2 separate regions of the Homo sapiens genome follow, and region 1 is linked to region 2. The links come from fine-mapping of genetic effects on gene expression. A gene starts in region 2. The other region holds a variant in brackets. All regions are shown on one strand. Distances are between the middles of the regions. Region 1 overlaps NDRG3 (NDRG family member 3). Region 2 holds the start of NDRG3 (NDRG family member 3).

Region 1 (2,906 bases), 96 kb after region 2:
TTCAGACAGACTGTTTGCTTTCTGCTGAGATAAGGAATGCATCACTCTGCCAGAGTATGACTTTTTACAGATTATTAAATAAAGCTGCATATGTCTCATTGTTACCTGATTGCTGGTGTTATTTCTTTCAAGCCATTCACTGGGGTTCAGGGCAGGACCGAGTTGCTGTATGCTGGTTCTGTGTTGCCATTTTCACATGTGATTGCTTATCCACCAAGCGACACTGTCCATTTATAGGAGGAAATGAAGACTGATGATAAATCATTTGCCCAAGGTCATGCAGCCAATAAGTCCAGCCAGGATCAAATCCCAGGGAATTATGCAGAATTCTATCTGATGTGTCTGTATTTCCCTCAAGCCAAAAATCGTGAGAAGCCTGACAGTGTTGTTTGTGATGGAGGAGGAGAAGCTGAGGTCTTGAGAAGGTGGTCCACGTCACAGCTCCACCACCTGTGTGGGATTGCTGGGTTCCACCTCTCATTTTAATAATCTGCAACCACTTGTCTTCTAAGAGACCAGCTTGTGTTTCTCCAGAAATGGCTATATTTGTACCCATCAAGAATAATTTCAGACCGAGTGCAGTGGCTCACGCCTGTAATCCCAACACTCTGGGAGGCCAAGGTGGGCGGATCACCTGAGGTCAGGAGTTAAAGACCAGCCTGGCCAACATGGTGAAACCCTGTTTCTACTAAAAATACAAAAATTAGCCAGGCATGGTGGTATGTGCCTGTAATCCCAGCTACTTGGAAGGCTGAGGCAGGAGAATCACTTGAACCCGGGAGGTGGAGTTTGCAGTGAGCCAAGATCACACCACTGCACTCTAGCCTGGGCTACAGAGCGAGACTGTCTCAAAAAAAAAAAAAAAAAAAAAAGCCAGGCATGGTGGCTCACGCCTGTAATCCCAGCACTTTGGGAGGCCAAGGCGGGCGGATCACTGGAGGTCAGGAGTTCGAGACCAGCCTGACCAATGTGATAAAACCCTGTCTCTACTAAAAATACAAAAAAAAAAAAAAAAATTAGTCGAGCGTGGTGGCATGCACCTGTAATCCCGCTACTCGGGAGGCTGAGACAGGAGAATCGCTTGAACCCAGGAGGTGGAGATTGCAGTGAGCCAAGATTGCACCATTGCATTCCAGCCTGGGTAACAAGAGTAAAACTCCGTCTCCAGAAAAAAAAAAAAAAAAAAAAAAAAAGAATAATTTCAGAAGACCACCATCTCAGATGAGTTTTCAGTAACCCGGGGCAAGTGCCAGCAAAAGTGCATGTGGATTGCTACATCTGTGACAGGCACTCGTAAAAAATGACATGAACCACCGGGCGCGGTGGCTCACGCCAGTAATCCCAGCACTTTGGGAGGCTGAGGTGGGCAGATCACGAGGTCGGGAGATCGAGACCATCCTGGCTAACACAGTGAAACCCCATCTCTACTAAAAATACAAAAAATTCGTCGGGCGTGGTGGTGGGCACCTGTAGTCCTAGCTACTCAGGAGGCTGAGGCAGGAGAATGGCGTGAACCCGGGAGGCGGAGCTAGCAGAGAGCGGAGATAGCGCTACTGCACTCCAGCCTGTGCGACAGAGAAAGACTCTTGTCTCAAAAAAAAAAAAAAAAAAGACATGCCCATTCTGGCAGAGGAGTTGAAACAAATGCATATGAACAGATAAAGATTACCAGGCTGAAGCCTTACAATGCAGGCCAATGCTCCACAGAATGCTGACATGGGAAGGAACTGATCTGATGGCCTCAGTTGCCTTTTTTTTTGTTTTTTGTTTGGTTATGTTTTGTTCTGAGATGGAGTCTCGCTCTGTCGCCCAGGCTGGAGTGCAGTGGCATGATATCCACTCACTGCAAC[C/T]TCCTCCTCCTAGGTTCAAGCAATTCTCCTGTCTCAGCCTTCTGAGTAGCTGGGACTACAAGCATGTGCCACCACGCCCAGCTAATTTTTAGTAGAGATGGGGTTTCGCCATGTTGACCAGGCTGGTCTGGAACTCCTGACTTCAAGTGATCTGCCCGCCTCAGCCTCCCAAAGTGCTGGAATTACAGGCATGAGCCCCTGCGCTGGGCCCTTTTTTTTTTTTTTTTTTTTTTTTTTTTTGAAACAGTGTCTCACTTTGTCACCCAAGCTGGATGGCAGTGGTGTAATCATAGCTCACTGCAGCCTCAAACTTCTGGGCTCAAGCCATCCTCCCACTTCAGCCTCTTGAGGAGCAGGGACTACAGGCATGCACCACCATGCCTGGCTAATTTTTTATTTTTTGTAGAGACAGCATATCACGTTGTTGCCTAGGCTAGACTTGAACTCCTGACCTCAAGTGATCTTGCCTCAGCCTCCCAAAATGCTAGGGTTACAGGTGTGGGAATCAGCCCTTTATTGAGCATCTATATATAGGCCAGGCCCTTAATGCCTTCCTATAAATTTCCTTCTATTGATCCAGTGAGATACATGCTATTCCCATTTTATAGATGCAGAAACAGGTCCAGAGATAACTAGCTTGTAAATGGTCACAAAACTAGTAAGTGGCTATATGGGAAACAGTTTCCTCCACTACACTCAACACTTCCAACACTGCTGTGACCAAATGTGTGAGCTTTTTTCCCATATACCAACCAGTTCTCCAACACCCCAGACACTGAGTAGGTGTCCTAAATTACCACACCAGCTTCCTGGAGTTAGTACAGACCCTACAGGTTAAGGGTTCAGGCCCACAAGACCGCCCCCTGCTTTAGATGCCAGGTGCAAGCAGTGGATCCCCAGGTTATTCATACTTCTGTCCAACCTGGCTACAAACTAGACCCCCTCCCTCAGGTTTGATAGTTCGCTAAGATGGCTCACGGAACTCAGGGAAACACTGAATTTACCGGTTTATTATTCAAAAGGATATGAGGCTGGGTGCAGTGGCTCACACCTGTA
Region 2 (2,906 bases):
TGATGAATAACAATATTATTGCTGCCCTCTGAGATGTTTGGTAATATTCATTTGTTCAGTTTGCCTTAATTAAAAGAATATGCTTTTAGTGGCCGGGCGTGGTGGCTCACACCTGTAATCCCAGCACTTTGGGACGCAGAAGCAGGCGGATTGCTTGAGGTCAGGAGTTTGAGACCAGCTTGGCCAACATGGTGAAACCCCATCTCTACTAAAAAAAAAAAAATACAAAAATTACCCAGGCATGGTGGCGCCCGCCTCTAGTCCCAGCTACTTGGGAGGCTGAGGGACTTGGGAACCTGAGCCGAGATGGCGACACTGGCTCGGGTTAAAAGGGCGTGGTGGCTCACACACCTGTAATCCCAGCACTTTGGGAGGCCGAGGCGGGCAGATGACGAGGTCAAGAGATCGAGACCATCCTGGCCAACACGGTGAAAACCCGTCTCTACTAATAATAGAAAAATTAGCCAGGCCCGGTGGCACACGCCTACAGTGCCAGCTACTCGGGAGGCTGAGGCAGGAGAATCGCTTGAACCCAGGAGGCAGAGGTTGCAGTGAGCCGAGATCGCGCTAGTGCACTCCAGCCTGGCGACAGAGTGAGACTCCGTCTCAAAAAACAAAACAAAACAAAACAAAAAAACTTTTAGTCAGTGGTACTTAATGGTAAAGAAATAATAGATAATAAATAGAGGAAGAGTGTGTCCTGTACATTTTGGTGTTAAATTGTTGGGTCATTAAGTTTAATATCTGCAATCATTCTGGGAAAAAAAATTCCATCTCTAATGTTGCATTCAAGAAAGTAGATGATTTGGCTGACGGTTGTAATAGGGGTGATACAATGGAGGACTGGTAATTCGGAGCCCTGAGTCTTGGACTCTAGTTCTTAAATTACTATGTTCATTCACCAAAAATTTACTAAGCTCTTTCCACGTGCCGAGCACTGTGCTAGGCGCCCTGTGACCTTGGGTATGGCTCTAGGTCACCTTAAAAGGAGGATGCCATACCCTGCAAGAGCTCTTAGGGGCTTCATAAGGATGCGACTCAGGGAACTGAGGGAAGCGCTCCAGACGCAGAGCTCAATGGCCCTGCCGCCCAGCGCCTCCAAAATCTGAGATTCTTCTCTGAGGAAACTCCGCAGCAAGAAAAACTACATCAAAGATGGCGCCGCCGGCCTCTCCTGGCTCAGCCACCATCTTCTCGGTAGTTCCCGAGGTGGACGGGCACAGCACTCATGCGCCGCCCTGGCGTCCTCGGCGCGCCTGCGCGGACCGCAGCACCTCCCCCGCCCCTCTCGCCGCCGCCGCCGCCGCCGCCGCCGCCGCCGCCGCCGCCGCTGCTGCTGCACTGACGGCGGGTGCCCGCGCCTCAGGTGAGTGAGCGCCTCCGCCCGGCCCGCGGGGGGCGCGCGGCGCCGCATTCGGGGGCGTCGCTCCTTTGCCCTGCTCCTTCCCCGCATCATCTCCGCGGCACGGCGAGGCCCTGGTGGCCCGTGCTGCTTGCCTCCCCCGTGCCCCCGGGGCCCTCTGCCCCGCCCCGCCCGCCCGCCGGACCCAGGTCAGCCCGGCTTTCCTCGGCCGCTCCCCGCGCCCAGCCCGCCGGCGACAGCGTGTGGGTAGCAAGAGAGCCTCCCTCCGGGCTCAACACCCTGGGTCACAGGGACGCCCCCCGCAGGCGCGAACCCTTCTCTCGCTCTGGCTCTGCAGGCGGCAGAGCTTGGTGGGCCTTGGGGTTGCTCATCCATCTACCTCGCCCGCTCCAAGAGCCCAGATGCTTGGAAGAGGGGCCGTGAGCAGCCCTTGCACCCGTCCGGCCCCAGAGCAGCAGAGGGCATCCTCTAACGGGACCCTACGACTACCCTACCGGGGAGAGGCTTCTTAGCCCCACTTAACAGCCGAGGAAACTGAGGCACGGAAAGGTGAAGTGCCATGCCCAAGGTCACGCAGCTGACAAGTGGCAGGGTCAGCTCTCAACTCAGGGTCTCGGGCTCTCAGGCCAGTGCGGTTGGAATTTGATCTCGTACCTTTGAAAAAATTTTGAAATCACTTGTCATCTCTGAAGTTGCTCTCGAACGTCGTAAAAGTAGGCTGCACAAAAAAGATTTTCTTGTTGTCGGAGTACAATTGAGGTGTTACTGTAATAATAATAGTGTTATTAATATAAGAGCTAACGTTCTTCCACCGCTCGCTGTGTGCCAGGGATCTTGCTAAGCATTTTATTAAGATAACCTCGCATAACCACCTCTGCACTTCCCAATCCAAATGCTTCCCCCTTCCTTGTCATGAAGCCCTTTTTTTCTTCCTGCAGAGCTGGCCTCCCTATCACAGGTAGACTAGGAGCCCCGTGGATTAGGAAGCAGGGAAGCTTTCCTTTGGTGGCTTACTGACAGAACAAGAGTGATCCTTGCCTGCTGGCATCCAGATCACCCCCGCCGCGCCCCCCCCCCCCCTTACCCTGGCCCTCAGGGGATATTATTAGCCTTCCTTTCCTGCCAAGAGAGCAGGACTGGGCTGACTGGGCTAGCTGGGCGGGCTGGACTTGGAGGTGACAGAGCAGATTTGGCTAGCACTCACCTCATTCCGGGGCTTTCTGTCCGAGGCTTTCTGCCTTTGCCCCAAGGTTGGGCTTGAACATTTCAGTATTTAAGATAAAGCAAGAAGAGAAAGAGAACATTGATAGAGTGGTGCTGAATTTAAGAAGCCTCCCATGATTTAAAGTTCCAAATGAACAGCTATAAAAATATGTGAATGTTTCTCCCCCAAAATAACTAGCTCAAACTGTCGTTTTTCTCCCTTAGCAAATCCTCCTCCACATTTCAAAGGCTCCACTAAATCACCACCTTCTCTGTGAAGCCTTCCCTGCTTGATTTTCCCAATTAGAATTACACGTTCACAAAACAGGGTCTTAGCCTC

What was found. PIP is the estimated chance that this variant, and not a neighbour inherited with it, causes the effect. A credible set is the group of variants that fine-mapping cannot tell apart.
Region 1: its variant is the best candidate, but not a certain one, in a credible set for the expression of NDRG3 in whole blood (TOPMed, PIP 0.67).

What each region holds. Positions count from the first base shown.
Region 1 is chr20:36,648,969-36,651,874 of GRCh38, reverse strand. NDRG3 (NDRG family member 3) reads left to right here. Exons shown (of 16, transcript NM_032013.4): 16 at 1-104. Among named protein-coding and RNA genes, the nearest start is that of SLA2, 4.2 kb to the right of the region's middle. The variant C/T (reference allele first, on the strand shown) is at 1,851.
Region 2 is chr20:36,744,505-36,747,410 of GRCh38, reverse strand. NDRG3 (NDRG family member 3) reads left to right here and starts at 1,321. Exons shown (of 16, transcript NM_032013.4): 1 at 1,321-1,366. RefSeq lists enhancers at 1,068-1,167, 892-1,858 and silencers at 1,278-1,477, 1,508-1,697.